2 separate regions of the Homo sapiens genome follow, and region 1 is linked to region 2. The links come from fine-mapping of genetic effects on gene expression. Tissue or cell type: whole blood. Region 2 holds a variant in brackets; the other region holds the start of a gene. All regions are shown on one strand. Distances are from middle to middle.

Region 1 (8,109 bases), 270 kb before region 2:
GGATTCAATTTCTGCCAAATTCTTGCCTCCTCCTTTTTTCTGTGCCCTAGCTTCTGCTTGTGAATTTTCCAATAGGCCTTCACACTCGTCTCTTAATCTTTTGAGTTATGATTTTTCACCTCTAACTTTGGTTCTTCTTTTTTGGGGAGATTGGGTGATCAGTGTCTCCAGTCAGCCATCTTGAAGCTGCCCTAAAAGTTTTACATTTTAACTGAGTCCAACTTATGCTTTTGATGTGTTGATGTTTGTTGATTTTTATCACCAAACTGAAGATTACCTAAATTTTCCCTCATGTTATCTCCTAGAAGTTTTATTGTTTACATGTGAGTCAATGATTTATTTTGACTTAAAATTTGTGAACAGTGTGTGGTCTATGTCTATACTCATTTTTTTGCATGTGAATGTCTAGTTTTTCCAGCACCATTTGTCAAAAAGATTATCCTTTCTCCATTGGACTGACTTTGCTTCTTTGTCAAATATCAATTGACTGTATTTGTGTGGGTTTCTTTCTGGTCCCTCTATTTTGTTCCACTGATCAATTTGTTTATTCTTTTGCCAGTACCATACTGCCTTGATCACTTTGGTTTTATATTAAGTCTTAAAGTCAGGTAATATCAGTCATCTGAGTTTGTTTTTCTTCAGTATTGTGTTAGCTACTCTGGGTTTTTGCCTTTCCATATAAACTTTAAAAAAAGTTTGCTGATATCCACAAAGTAACTAGCTCAGGTTTTGACTTGGGTTGCACTTAACCTATAGATCAATTTGGGAAGACCTGAAATCTTAACAGTATTGAGTCTTCCTATCCATGAACATGGAATAGCTCTCCATTTATTTAGTTCTTTGATTTCTTTCACCAGAGTCTTGTAGTTTTCCTCATAAAGATCTTGTGCATATTTTGTTAGATTTATACCTAAATATTTCTTTTTAAGTTATCAATTTTAATGGCTGTAAAAGTGCTTAAAATGAAAAAATTCAAGATGCAATATTTACAACCATCAATCTTTTGTGGGCAGGCCACCTGTTATCTATTTGTGGCTTACCAAAGTGTTATAACCCATTGGTTAGGCATATTTTTTGGTAAAGAATATCAGTTACTATCACTGAGCGTGAGACACTAATTAATCTCACCCATTGCCACTTCTTTAGTAAGAACTGGACTTGCAGCCACTGCTATGGCTGACATTCTAATGCCTCAAGTGGAGCCACCTTTCCTGTACTCAAATGTCCTCTGTTTGTTGCCTGTCATCCCAGCTACTTGGGAGGCTCAAGCAGGAGGATTGACTGGGGCCAGAAGTTCGAGACCAGCCTGAGCAACATAGTGGGACCCAATCGGTAAAAAATAATAATAATAATAAAAAATAAAAAAATGTTTCTGGTTGTCTTTGGGGGACAGGTTCAGATTTGGGAATATTTGTAGGGGGATTTTAGCCTGGCCTTTGTTCACCTGGTGTAGAAATCTTGTTTGTCCTATAGATCAAATTGAGTCCTAGTTGGATGCTTGGCCACCAGCAAAATCCCTATGAGTCACACCATTCTGAAGTCTACTTGGGTACCACTGCTTATGATTGTACCAAGCCCTCCCTGGCACTGAGGGTTAAGTCATGCACCACTATTTGTCTTCTGCCAGCCCAGGCTCTCATCCTTCCCATTTAAGTCAGGGAGCTCCTTTTGACTGCAGTGTCTTTCACAACCATCTCTTGCTACAAAGAACAGCCACTTTGGTGCTTTTCAAAGATGGCAGTCCTTCCTTTGCCAATGATTCTTTGAAAATCTTGGTGGATGCCCCCTCAGGGGACACAGTTAAAGAGAGGTAAGCTGGCCACATGTGGAAATACACTGCAATATTTCCATCTCCTTGATTCTTTGGATCTTTTCCTGTACATGTACCAGGGAATTTCCTTTTTCTCATCTTCATTTAGCTGAGTCCAGAAGTCAGTTAGTCAATTTAGATAGTACATTGAAACCAGAGTCATTGGGAAGTGAATTCAAATGGACAGATTCAGGTTTATTCACACATATACTCTTCAATGTAAATTAGCAGAATCTTGCAATTCTTTCTCTTCTTGGGGTTGACTTTATAGTTGGTCTCCTAGGGTGTGACTGAATCTGGTTCAAGTATTAAGAGTGAGAGTAGTCAGAGATGGTGGGAGAGGGGTGGGAGGAGATCGGCTTCCCTTTCCAAGGTAACTGCCTTAAGTGAGTTCCGAAGAGGATCTTCAAACAAAGCAGGAACAGCCTCGTTACATAAGGAAGAGGGCATGCTTCTGCTGCCAAGGGAGTTTGGGGGCTTGAGTGACTAGGAATCATTCAAGTTTTCTTTTATAGTCCTATTCTTATTCCCAGATTCCCACTCTTTCCTGCTGATAATTATAAAATCTTGTGAGGCCGATAATTCAATTGACTTTGTAATTTGGCGATTTGTAGATGAAATTGTGAATTTGGTTTTTCAGTTTTGGCCTTGTGGCTCAATTAACAAGATATTCTTTGAGCTCTGTTGTTTGTAAAAATACAGTTGTTTAAAAGTCATAAGCTGATAATTTAGGACTTAGTGCATCACTACTTTTCTTTCAGTGGTCCAGTTTTAAACTCATCCCTTGAGTTCATTCTTTGAGTTCTTCCTAATCTTCATATTATTATTATTATTGTTGACAATGGCCAGTTGGTTTCCCAGAGCCTTGTCTTCATTGGGTAGTTCAATCCAGGTGACCATACTTGGTAATTTACCTAGCTGTCATGCCAAGTGCTTCCAGAGCCTGTATTTTCATACTAGTTGAATCTCAGCCTTTATTCCTAATCAGGCCAGACAACCAATCTCAGATTCTTCTCATTTCTTCAAAATTCTGTTTCTTACAGTCCCACATTGGGTTATCTTTATTCTGTCTTTTTCACTACTGTCCTTGTTGGTCTTATTTTGCTTCCTTGGAATTTGGGGTAACAATTTTTGGGTATTGATATGACTCTTTTGGAGCCTAACGGTCACTATAATAGGATGGACAAGTGTGTGTGTGGTCTTAAAAGAAAAGCATGGACTGTTTGGCTGGTGACTTTTCTTTGATCTCTGGGCTGTCTGCTCTTTTGGCTAGCAGAGATGATCCAGTTTTCAACTTGGGGCAGGTCCCATCCCTGCCACCTCATATGTGCATATGGGGATTTACAGATTACAGCTGTAAGATGTCCTCCACTGACCCGGTGTCATACCAGCTTCCCAGCCACCTGTGGGATGAACAGGTGTTCTCTCCTTTGAAATGAGAAAAGAAATGGAGAGACTTTTCAAAGATCCCCAGGATTAGCCAGTAGCTGGGCCAAGAATGAAATCCACATCTTCCCATACCCTCAATACTGACCTCTCCATCAGGATCTGCCCTAACATTTGAAGGGCCCAGCTCAAGAGCCTACATGAATGCCCCATACTATCATCTAAATATTCATAAGCAATAGTCAGCTATTGAGTGCTACATAAAACATTCTCTATCCTCCTATCTTGACAAATTGTTGCAATTTGGAATTTCCAGGAGCAGATACTGAGACTGAGTTTGTCCTGTGTGGTATTTATTAGTGATCAACAGGGAGAGGAGGCAGGAGCAGGCAGAGAGAGAAGTCCAAATGCAATGCGGACTCCCCCAAACCTTAGCCAACCCCACTAGGTGTCCTAGAGAATATATGGCCCACCAGACTGTCCAGGGCAGGTAAAATTTGTGTGCCACTCTTCCTCGACCCCCAGGACAGGGCATATCTTTGGATGAGGGGACTCTATGCAGGCACAAACCTTGAAAAAGCTGACAGCTGGTCAACACCTCCTCTTCTAACAAATGTTCCTTCCTAATGACCTGTTCTGCTCCGGCAAGAGCAACAGGGTGAGAGGACTTCCATCTCTCCCAGCTCCTGGACATTCTAGTGCTCACATTCAAGCTCCATACCCCTGACTCAACAGCTGCTCCTGGCCACTCTCGGGCCTACGGTACCTGACACAGTGGCTCTAGCCACCTTGGGGACAACAGAGAGGCAGGATACCTCCTACCTTCAACACCCTGGAGGCGCGTGGGGAATTCCAGAGTCCTCAATACCCAGAGATTGGACTAAAACGGGATGGGGCACATCCGCTTTGCCATTAGACCTCTTAATTCCTGAGCAACCGGGAACTGGAGGAGGTCTGTAAAGCAGGGGAGTAGGATAGGAACCTATCCCTCTTGCTCGGGTCAAAGGTATGCTATCAAAGATCACACTAAGATGTTGGGAGATTTAAAGGAGGATTTGCACATGGAAGGCTCTTTTTTGGAGAAAGAGACTGAGTCCTAGCTAGCATTAAATAAAACAATGGCTTAAACAATCTCCATGAGTACCAGAGATTTTTACTATTAGCGATATTCCTGGTGTAGCCGTGTCAGGGCTGTCACTCTCTCTGTCACTCGCCCTGGGCCCAGCAATCCTTTCCCGAGGCGGAATCCCCCTGGCGGTGTGGGTCAGGATCGCTCTCCGTCCCCTACCCGCGCCAGGTCCCTGGAGCTGAGCAGAGCAGGGCGCTGTCGAGCGCGTTGGGGAGCCGGGGCCGGGACGAGCACAACCGGGAGCCCGAGCGACAGCGGCCAGGGGAGGGAGGAGGCGGTGAGGCTGAGGAAGGCAGTCGGGCCCAGCTTGACGCAGCGGCGGCTGCGACTGAGCAGGCCACCACCAGGGCACCCGGGCCAGCCGCGCCAGCCATCCCTCCGCCTCCTCCTTCAGCTGCTCGGCGCGCGTGGGAGTGAGTGCGTCGCGAGCCCGCCGGGGGTCTCAGGCTCTGGGCGTCCTCGGCGAGCGAGCCCGGGCAGAGGGAGGCGCACGAGCGCGCGCGACAGAAGGAGGCGGGGAAAGGAGGGGGCGAGGCGGAGGCGAGCGAACAGAGGGAGGGACCCGCCCGCCGCGCCCCGGCCGCTGGGCATGTGTGTCCGCAGGCGCCCGACGCTGCCGATGTCCCGGGGCTGAGCCGCGCCCAGGTGTCCCGGACAGTGCGTGCGAGCGTGTGTGTCCGCGCAGGCGAGCACCGCGCCGGCCCTGAGCCTCCCGCTCGCTCCCCACGGCCGCGGTGCATGTTCGCCTCCTGCCACTGTGTGCCGAGAGGCAGGAGGACCATGAAAATGATCCACTTTCGGAGCTCCAGCGTCAAATCGCTCAGCCAGGAGATGAGATGCACCATCCGGCTGCTGGACGACTCGGAGATCTCCTGCCACATCCAGGTGCGCGTGGAACCGGGCGAGGGCGCGGGGCACACGCCGGGAGCAGGGCGGGGGGCCTTTGCGGTGGGCATGCGAGAACAAGGAACCCACTCCCGGAGGGGATTGGGGGACTGCTAGAAAGCCAGATTTCGATTCCTCAGGCCTCTGAGGGTGGGGGGCCTTATCCTGGCATGGAGGGGCATGGTGCCCTGCAAGCGCCAGGCACGCGTTATCCGCGCCCAGTCTCCTTCCCCTCGCGTGCACCCTGCGCGCGCGTCTCACTGCGCCCGGGCTAGGGGCGCGGGGCAGCTGCCTCCGGAGGGACTCTGGCCCCTCTGGGCCCTACTCCGCCAGGAGATGGGAGCTCCGAGGGCTGAGAGGGGCACCTGCATGTCGCCCACTGGTATTTCCTCCCTTCTTCCACGTGGAGAAGGCATGCATCAGCTGGGTTCACTCATTTCTGTCTCCCGCGCCCAGGCTCCGGAGACGCCCTCAGTCCCGGAACCTGCTTTCCGCTCCGTGTCGGTCCCCCTCACCCTCCGCCGGTGGTCTTTAGTTCTCCGCGTGGGGCGGTGGCGAAGTTTCCCCAGAGTGAGAGAGGCCGGGCTGCCCTGGGCGCCAGCCTTGAGGGATGGAGCGCGCGCTGCGCCGGACTGGAGCTACCTCGAAAGGAATGTGTGAAGTCTGAGTGTTTCGGAGAAAGGAAAAGGGATTGTGAGGCCAGCAAGTGGGGAGCCCTGCAGGAACCTGGGTCCTGGGTAAAAGAGCCCCGTGGAATCTTGGTGGACATTCACTGTCGCCCAAGTTGGAGGAGAAGGCGAGTTGTTTGGGAGAAGGCAGCTTTGCTGGCAGCCCTGTCCTCGGGTAGTAAGTGCCTCTGGGCTGTCAGGAGAGCTAGTGTGAGGTGCAAAGGTGTGTGTGTGCATGTGGTTGCGCGTGCGTGTGCATATTTGCTGTGGGTGAATATGTAGGCAGGTGGGAGCCCCTCTTCCAGGACCCCAAAGATGCCCCACTCGGTGCGCACACAATCAGGAAAGGTTGTGTCAGGGCTCAGCACAATTAACTTCTGACTTCTAAATCTATTTAACTGTTTATCTCTGGGATTTCCTTTCTCACCTACCCTAGTCGAGTCTTGAGGCTCTGGGACTGAGCTTTTTTTTTTTTTTTTTTTTTTTAGTGTAATACAGGGCACACCACCCATGTCAGTGGGAGGTGAGTGGGGCAGCATCTCCCAGAGTAGGAATCAGCCTCTAGGCTGTGCAAACCATGAAGGAATGAAAGGACTTTCCCTGTTTTATTTTTATTTAATTTTTGTTAGTGGGAGTGTGTGACATGTTGGGGGCAGTTGCAATTAATTTGTAACCTGACAGCCGGACAAGTGTCAAGGTAGGAATGTGATGCCCCATGATCTCCCAGGAAAGTAGGCTCCCATTGAATTTTCTGGGGGAGCTTGAATTTCATTCTGAGCTAAGCAGCACTGCTAAACTTAATAATAAAAGGATTAGCAGGATAGGCAGTGTTTCTACTGCCACAAGGGTTGCACAGAAGCATCTGGCATGTACTAATAGTCTTGTGATCCAGAGAGTGTGGACTGTGCACTTTGCTTTAAGTCCTAAAGTGGGTGTACAGGTCCTTTAACCCATAATGAATGTGTAGATGATGGAGGGGCCGTCAGGGAGAGAGGCTGTTGAGTTCTCCTCTGTCTCTCAGCCCTCTTCTGCCCTGTACCACTTGGTGTTGACATTTTTTTCCCCTCCCTCAGGATGAAGTCTTCCTTAGAATAATAAATATTCCCCAAAGGACATGTATTTGTTGTCTTGTGTTTTGAGAAACAATAAATTGTAGCCAGTCTAACAACAGTTTGAAAAACTCCAGTGCTTATGACCCAACTAGTGCCAAAGAGGTTAAAATGTTATGTTTCAAAATGTTGGCTTGGGCACTGATTTTTAAAAAATTATGATGTTTCATTTTGTGATTTGTCTTTTTCTGCCCTTTCTGCCCCCAAATTACAATTATTATTTAACCAATTAAAATAAATTAAAATATTTTATTTGGATAACTTTAGACCTCACACTTTCCTAGAGTACTCCAGACCAGGAATTGAAATTGCCCTTCCGGGTATCAGGTAACAAAGACTTCCCATTTGCTTAGAGTGAGAACAAAAGGATTAAAAAACAATGCGAAACAAAACCATTTGGAATTACTGGCACTTGTTCTGGGTGAATCCATCTGTGTTTGCTTCCTTCCTTCTATAGAACTACAAAGTTAAAGGATTGTATATATTGTCACAGAATGTCACCCTCTCTCCATAGCCCACATCTGCCTGTCTGCGTTAGGAGCTCTCATCCCTGGTGTCTGCCTGGCTCTGGAGCAGGGGTGTCCAATTTTCTGGCTTCCCTGGGCCACATTGGAAGAAGAAGAATTGTCTTGGGCCACACATAAAATACACTAACGCTAACGATAGCTGATGAGCTAAAAAAAAAAAAATCACAAAAAGTCTCATAATGTTTTAAGAAAGTTTATGAATTTCTGTTGGGCTGCATCCAAAGCTGTCCTGGGCCATGGGTTGGATGAGCTTGATCTAGAGGCTCTGTAGGAGGAGCAGGAGCTCTTGGACATGTGTTAGTTGTTCACTCCTGTTCACTACAGGAGTGCTGCCTATGGAGCCCCAAAATAAGTAGGGGAAACTCAAGCCACACATCCTTGGGAGCTCATTAGTCTGTGTTCTCTAGTAGGTAAGCATTCCAGATTCAAAGAAAAATGAGCCACTCAAACAGGTTTCTCTAGCAAGGTGCTGGAGAGTGGCCACACATGGTAGATGCAAGAGATGATAGAAACCTTCAGGACTATTGCTTGAGACAATGTGAATAGCTCTAGGTGCCATTTCTTGAGCATCTCTCATGAGCCAGCCTTTTCCACT
Region 2 (8,109 bases):
CAGAGATGGAGGGAGAGGGGGAGGGGGAGGGAGAGGGAGAGCAGGAGCAGTGACTTAACAAGAGCAACTATCTTGAGTCACAATCATGCTTGTTGGCTTTCCTTACCTAAGTTAACCGACTGCTTTGAATGATGTGCTCTTTTCCGTTTATAAATAAGTTGGAGAGTCAGGAAAATACAAGGAAGTAAGTCATGATAAGGAGGTCTTAGAGCTACTGAGAACAGTGGTGTTGAAGAATGCCCAGCTGTGCTGCTTGAACTATACTTTGTCTGCAACTGTATTCTCCAGAGGATTTTTATTGACCTTTCCCCAGACTCTACAAGGTGATGCTGGGCCCCAGAGAGCAGTTATCTCAGCTTACAGGCAGGAAACATTCAGTCTGATATGGGAAATCATAAGAGGAACAGTGTCTAATATGCCAAAGCATCTTATGCATTTCCAGGGTTTTGTTCATGTAAGTTATCATAATTTGACACTCATGACCATTTCTTTGAATTGGATAGAACAGATACTGTTGTCTCACTTTCCAAACAAGGAAATTAAGTTATACAAATGGTTGATTACCTGGCCATATGGTCCTTTCTCTCAGTCTCTCAGTGATGTTGGGAACAGCTTCCCTTTCTTTTTACTGTATACCCAAGAATATACCCCTCCTATCATAAATATATTATTAAAATTATTGTTTATATGTTTTATTAATACAATCTTTAAAAAGTCCTCTGAAGTATATGTTAGTCCCAAGGACTCTTTTTAATGGATACTTAATGTCTAACCTGATTACAAAGAACATTTAATGAATGTAATAATAATTTATTATCTTTCCACTTGGAGCTAGCAGTTAGCTAAAATTTCAGTGAATCTCTCAAACTATTTTAACTAATGGCTGACTCCACTATACTTGTCAAGTCTGTTGGTTTCTAATGTAGATAAATTGCATGATATTGATGATGATATAATTATAGTTAGTATTTATTAAATGCCTATTCCATGTCAGGAACCCAGTCATGTAAACACCCAGTATCCTCACCATTTTGCAGATAGAAAATTGCATTCAGCAGGCTTCTGTAGGTTTCCCAAGGTAATAGGCATGGCCGGGTTAACTCCTCACAACCAGCAATACTGCTACTATTGGGGAGGAGTAACTCGTAATAGTATGTTAAGACATATGGTTGACAGAAGGAAGAGAATCCAGGCTATTTAAAATCCTCACAGTCTTCCTCTTGAGCAGTTAAAAAGAGACCAAAAAAAAAAAAAATGACCATGTATTGAAAAAAAATCGCTAACATTTATTGAGTAAATTGCCGTGCAAGGCACTGATCTGAGAATGCCATGTGTATTAACTTGATTAATCCTCACAACCACCCCTTGGAGGTACACACTGCTTTTACATCTGTAAAATGAAAGCTTTTGTTACAGATGTGGAAACTGAGGCTCAGAGATGATAAACGATGCAGCCAGGATTGGAACCCAAGGACTGCTCCAAAGTCTGTGCTTTAAATCTTGCCTTCTACAATTGCTTAATAAGTTCTGGTTCATAGGAGCCAGCTCTATGTTAGGCACTTGATATGTATCTCTCATTTCCTTGTCATAACAACCATGAGAGGAGTTGTTGTCTCCATTTTACAGTCAAGGCACCAGGGCTCCCAGATGTCCAGTAACTTCTAGCCACTCACAAAGTAGAGGCAACTTTGTTGCCTTTCCCCGGATCTGTGTCCGGTGGTTTGTGCAGGAGCAGCCATGGAATTCAGGCTCATGAACAGTTCTTATCACTGAATGCCATTCTTCTTCTTTGGTTTCAGGCTGACTTAGCAAGCAGTGTTTCTGACATCTCATTATGGAAAATCGATTCTCCTCTTCACACATCTTCTGCTTTCTTTGGCCTCTTGTCACTGCCCAGACATGCATTCCCAATTCTCAGACAAACAAATGAATTGAAACAGGAACAGTATTCAAGGGCATCCAAATGTTGTGCTACTGATACTGTTCAGTTGAGCACAGTGGCCTGAACCAGAACAATGCTCACTGTGCAGGATCCTGCAGAATCTTTGGCTTGGTTCCATATTCCCACCTCTCTTTTCTTGTTCCTCTTGAAAGGTAGACACCCCTGTGGGCAGAGTCAGACAAGGTAGAGAGAAATGGCTGAGGCAATATAGAATGCTTGTCTTGCTAGCTTATCTTTCTCCATGAAAGGAGAAGATCCATAAAAAGCAAGAGTAAAGGAATCTACTTACGATCTCTGAAAAGTAGCGTAAAGAGTGAGAGCAGGTTTAAGAGGGGAAAAAGTGAAAAACATGTGAAATGCTAAATATTATGACTGGCTATAGTTAAAATAATAATAATACTTTTGTTTGTTTGTTTATAGTAAAATAATAATAATACTTTTGTTTTTTGAGACAGAGTCTCACTCTGTCTCCCAGGCTAGAGTGCGGCGGTGAGATCTCGGCTTGCTGCAACCTCCGCCTCCCGGGTTTATGCAATTCTCCTGCCTCAGCCTCCCGAGTACCTGGGATTACAGGTGCCCGCCACCACGCCTGGCTAATTTTTTTGTATTTTTAATAGAGATGGGGTTTCACCATGTTGGCCAGGCTTGTTTTGAACTCCTGATCTCAAGTGATCTGCCGGCCTCGGCCTCCCAAAGATAATAATACTTTTAAAATGAAAGGTAGGAAGGAGGCATTTGAAACAATGGTGAGATGTTAAGCTTGAGAATTATGGAGAATAACTATCCTGGTAGAAAAAAACAGAAATAAAATATGGTGATAGTTTTGTTTCAGGTTTTTTACTTGTTTTCTCTTTTGTCTTTGGAAGGTCTGTTTGTTTCAAGTGAGCTGTCAGGTCATATGTTGTTTTAACATGATGATAAACATAAAGATTTATCTATATTCCCTTCAGACAGGCCAAAGGGAGATTTCCTCAGTATTGAGCCATGGCCTACTGCCATGCAAATGAGCCCCGGTTAATCTATGAAATTCATCGTGTGTTACTGCAAAGTAGTGATTTATTGTGAACAGTGATTTTCAGATTTGTTCTTCAGTGTCCTAAAGATTTTTAGTAGTTCTTCAAGAACCATTGTTGGTGACTAGTGAGGGAGGTGTAGTAGGTACTAGTCCTGGGCCCCACCTTTGCGTCAGTCTATCTGTTTTAAACCTGGGGATTCTGCTCAGAATTATATAATCAGGGGGAATTGCAAAGGGTTGAAGATTTTGAGAACTTTTAGGGATATTTTCCTTTCAAGCTTCAGGGTTGAAAATTAACTAACTCCTGTGAGAGTAGGAACTCCTCTGCCACACTGGAGGCTGCTCACCCAGGAGAGGGGAGTGGGGGGCCCATTGAGGTCCCTGGAAATGGCCTGCCCCACCTCAGCCACAGTGCATGGCTGGCAACACCCTTTTTCCCTTCTGGGATTTACTGTCTGGTCTTACATTTATCCTGTGTGCAGTTTTACATAGTCGATGCCACACCATTTATATAAAGATGCTTTTTTCAGTTAGTAGTATATTGCAAGCATTTTCTCACATCATTAAATTCTTCTAAACATGAATTTTAATGTCTGTGCAATATTTCATCACATGTATTTAACCATTTTCCCACTGGAAATATAGGTTGACTTAAAAAACATTTTTGGCTATAATAAATGATACTCTGATGAACATCTTTGTCTTAAGATTTTTGTCAGCATTTCTGATTATTTTCTCAGGGTTAATTCTTAAAAGTGGAATTTCTGGTTCAAAGAATACCACAGCTATAAAAATCCATGTATTTTGCTAATTTTCTTTCCAGAAATGCTAAATCAATTTTATATTGATGCATAACAACATGGAATTTCAATTCCTGCTCTGAATAAACCTTTGTTTCATAGAGGATTATTAGAAAATCATCTTTTGGTGACAGATATTTAAAGTAGAAGAATGTATGCAGGCGTGTTGAAATTGTGTGAGGAAAATTTTTTCTTCTCATCCTTTTCATGAAAAGTCAGAATGTAGTGGTTGCATGGCACCTGCATTTAGAACACTAACTTTAGTCAGCCGATATTAATTGGAAGCCTAGGTTCAAATCATGGCTTTGCCACTTACTAACTTCGTGATTGTGGTCAGGTCAGTTACTCTCTCTAAGTTGTCGTTTCCTTATCTGTAAAGTGAAGAAAAGATTAGCATTGTTATGAGATGGAGATAAGGCATGTGAGGAATCCAGCACTTTGAAAAGAGCTGAGATTACCATGACAGCAACCATATATAGCTACTGAACACTTGAAATGGAGCTGGTTCGAATTGAGATGTGCTATACATGTGCAGTGTGCAACACACACTAATTCCAAAGGCTTCGTCCCAAAAAAGAATGCAAACTCTTTATTAATAAAAGAGTTGATTAATTATTAATAAATTTTGATATCATTACCTGTTGAGATACTATTTGAATATCTCGATTTCAAATAAAACACATTATTAAAATTAATTGTAATACATTTATTTTGCTTTTTAAATGCTTTTTTTCCCTCTTTGAAGTGGCTTGTGTTATAATCTTACTGGACAGTACTGCTGTAGAATATAATAAAGGCTGGAGGAGCAATTTTTAGAAGAAAAAGTGGGTTATTTCTCCATTATGGAATTATCCAGTTGTCATCTTATCTTTTGGGGACATTTGATTCTTAGGAAATGATGAGGCATTTGGACAGGGTCCTCTGTTTTGGTCC[G/A]GAAGGTTTAGAAAGGCTAGAGTAGGGATGATGCATAATCTTTCATTGTTTGTTAGAGGGGTGAGTGGAGAGTTTAAAAATAGCGTCCCCTCCCTCCTCCCCTCCCAATGCTGATCCCTCATGAGTTATTTCTGTTGGCCGCATTAGGAACCTGACATTTGATTCATTCAGTGGGTCCTGCCTAGGTCCTTTAAAACAGAATGGACTGTTAGGGAAAGGCTGCCCTGGGCCATGCAGGCCGAGGAGACCAAGGGGATTGGAATAACCAGTATGGCAAAATGCTTGGTCAAGATCCAGACTCGACGAAGCCTCCAATTGCACATGGTGAACCACTGCAACAGTAATGTGTTTGTTCGTCTGCTGAGACTCGGCTCCAAGGTCACAGCTCGTAACACTGGTATGTGTGGTGCCCTGGGCTGTCATCCTGTTCCTGAAGTGTGCGGGCTTCCAGCTTCCTGCTCACTGCTGGTGGAGAGAGGCCCAGGGTGAATTTGGTGTCAGAGGTTTTTGATAAGGATGAAAAGAGAGAGAGGAAGGGAGAAAAGCAGAGACGAGTGGGAAGGAGGGTGAGCAAGCCAGTGCAAAGGGGAAACAGGAGGGTGTGTTCCAAATGATATAAAGTTGTCATAAATACAAATTACACCCTAGTCAGCAGTGAGTCAGGAGGGAGAGGGAGGCAGTGGTGGTGTGTACCTCCAGATTGTTCCATAACATGAGAAGATTAGGGAGAAGGCAGAATGGATGATCACAACACGCTCCCCCTCCTTTCATTGTTGAAAGGGTCAGAGCTCAGATCTGCTTGCTTGCTGGGGTGAGGCGGAGCACCACTTTTATCCTCAAGGCAGAGCTTTACTCAAAATATTGGCCAAAGAATTGGAACTGACCTTCTGCCAATTTCCTTTTCATTGTAAATATATTTTGTTATTTTATGGTCCTTGAGGGAAATAGGAATTGAAATAGGAACTTAAAAAGTTAGAGCTTACAGCAAGAAAGAAGCTGTGGCTATATGTATAAATGTGGTTTTTACCAATTGATTAACACAAAATACAACCTGGAAAATGTCTGTAATTGGCTATATCTCATGCACATGTGTGAAACTGACTTCTAAGTGAATTGAGACGAAATTGATTATATTTGTATAATGACATAATACATGATGTGTTCTTGTATAAAAGAGTTTTTAAAAGAACAAATATATAGATGCTTTCCGTTAATACTCCCAATAGTTGATCTATGAATACTGCCACATGGGATATAGGATTTTTTTTTTTTATAAATGGGATTGTTCAAGATATATTATTGCAGAATTAGTTTTCTTACTTTATCATATGACTTGAAGGACTTTCCATATCCATACATATTAATATACATCCTTTTTATAAATGGCTGGATAATATTAGGTAATATAAAGATATCATAACTCAGTTATTTAATTACCAAATTATTGTTGGAAATGGTTATGGCTCGTTTTTTGGCTGTAACAGATGGTACTGCAATGCATATGTATACAGAGGCATTTCTCTTTAATAGATGCTTCAAAGTATAATTGTTGGGTTGAAGGATATACGAATTGTAACTTTTAATGGAAATGGGCAAATTATCCTCTAAAAGCAAATTCTAACAAGGTGAGTATGAGCTTGACTATTCCCCCACATAATCACTCACCCTGATATGGCCAGTTTCTTAAAAGTTTTGCAAAATGGTTGAAAGGAAAATGAGATTTCATTGTTTTAATTTGCATATCCCTTTTTATCAGTGAAGATGAGGATCTTTTCAAATAATTGTGTATTTTCATTTCTTCTTTGCAGAACTGCCTATTTGTTTACTTAGTACATTTCTATTGTGTTTTTGTCCTTTCCTTATAGATTGTAGTATTTCTTTTATAATGTGAATATTAATCCTTTATATTTTACAAATGTTAATGTTTTCTCTCCTAATTGGTTCTTGGCTTTCAACTTTTATTTAATGTTAACTTTATGACACAGGCACTTTTTTTTTTTTTTTTTTTTTTTTAAGAGTCTCGCTCTGTTGCCCAGGCTGGAGTGCAGTGGCACCATCTCGGCTCACTGCAAGCTCCACCTCCCGGGTTCACACCATTCTCCTGCCTCAGCCTCCCGAGTAGCTGATATTACAGGCGCCTGCCACCACGCCCGGCTAATTTTTTGTATTTTTAGTAGAGACGGGGTTTCACCGTGTTAGCCAGGATGATCCCAATCTCCTGACCTCGTGATCCGCCCGTCTTGGCCTCCTATAGTACTGGGATTACAGGCATGAGCCACCGCACCTGGCCGACACGGGCACTTTTTATATGCACAGAGAACTTCTGTATGTGCAAACTATTTGCTTTCTGTATATTTTAGGTTTCTGTTTTTATGTTAGTTTTCCCCATGCCAAGATTATAAAAGTGTTTCCTGTTTTTATTCTTCATAATTAATGCATTTACTTGAACTCTATGAAATTGCTGATAATAACTGCTTATGACCTTCAAAATTGGCAATTTCACGTGGTATCTAATTTTTTTTTTAGTTTAACCCTTTATCTTCTTAGGAATTTTTACACGTGCATGACATGGTATAGGGATATACCTTCCCCCCTCCCCCCACAATTGGTTAGCAACTTTTTGCAAAACTTTTTCATAAACAAATTTTCCATTATATTAAAGGGTATATTTCTGAATTATATCTTTTATTATTCCTGCTCCATTACTATACAGTATAGTTTTAATATCAGGTAGGTCAGGTTTCCCCTGCATTGCTTTTTTTCAAAGGAAGTTATACTTTTAGAATGATTTTTAGGTTCACAGTAAAATTAAAAGGAAGGCATAGAAATTTTCCACATATGGGGAATTTCCCTCACACATGCTCAGCCTCCCCCATCATCAACATCCCACACAAGAGAAGTACATTTGTTACACTTGATGAGCCTGCATTGAGACATCATGACTATTCAAAGTTGATCGTTTGCGTTAGGGTTCACCTTGGTGGTGTACATTCTGTGGGTTTGGACAAATGTTTAATGGCATGTATCTACCCCTGTTGTATCATACATAATAGTTTGACTGCCCTAAAAGTTCTGTGTTCCACCTATTTCTCTCTCTCTTCCCCTAATTCCTGGCAACCACTGGTCTTTTTATGATATTCATAATTTTGCCTTTTTCAGAATGTCAATTAGTTGGAATCATACAATATGCAGTCTTTTCAGACTGGCTTCTTTCACTGAATAATATGCATATAAGCTTCCTCTATAGCTTTTCATGGCATTTCTTAGCACTGAATAATATTCCATTGTCTGGATGTGCTCACTGATTTATTTTCCAGAAGTTTTTGATTATTAATGTGTACATTTACCATTTGTCTTTTTTGAAAGTGTGTTGGATTTTCTATTGAAATTGCATCAAATTTTAGATTAATGAGAGGAGA

What was found. PIP is the estimated chance that this variant, and not a neighbour inherited with it, causes the effect.
Region 1: FRMD3 starts here. The variant in region 2 is fine-mapped to the expression of FRMD3 in whole blood (TOPMed, PIP 0.98).

What each region holds. Positions count from the first base shown.
Region 1 is chr9:83,535,186-83,543,294 of GRCh38, reverse strand. It overlaps FRMD3 (FERM domain containing 3), which reads left to right and starts at 4,894. Exons shown (of 14, transcript NM_174938.6): 1 at 4,894-5,210. The coding sequence starts at 5,064. RefSeq lists a silencer at 6,647-6,941.
Region 2 is chr9:83,263,990-83,272,098 of GRCh38, reverse strand. The region is part of intron 13 of FRMD3 (FERM domain containing 3); the gene reads left to right. FRMD3-AS1 (FRMD3 antisense RNA 1) reads right to left here. Exons shown (of 3, transcript NR_184120.1): 3 at 1,266-2,104. Among named protein-coding and RNA genes, the nearest start is that of FRMD3-AS1, 49 kb to the right of the region's middle. The variant G/A (reference allele first, on the strand shown) is at 4,691.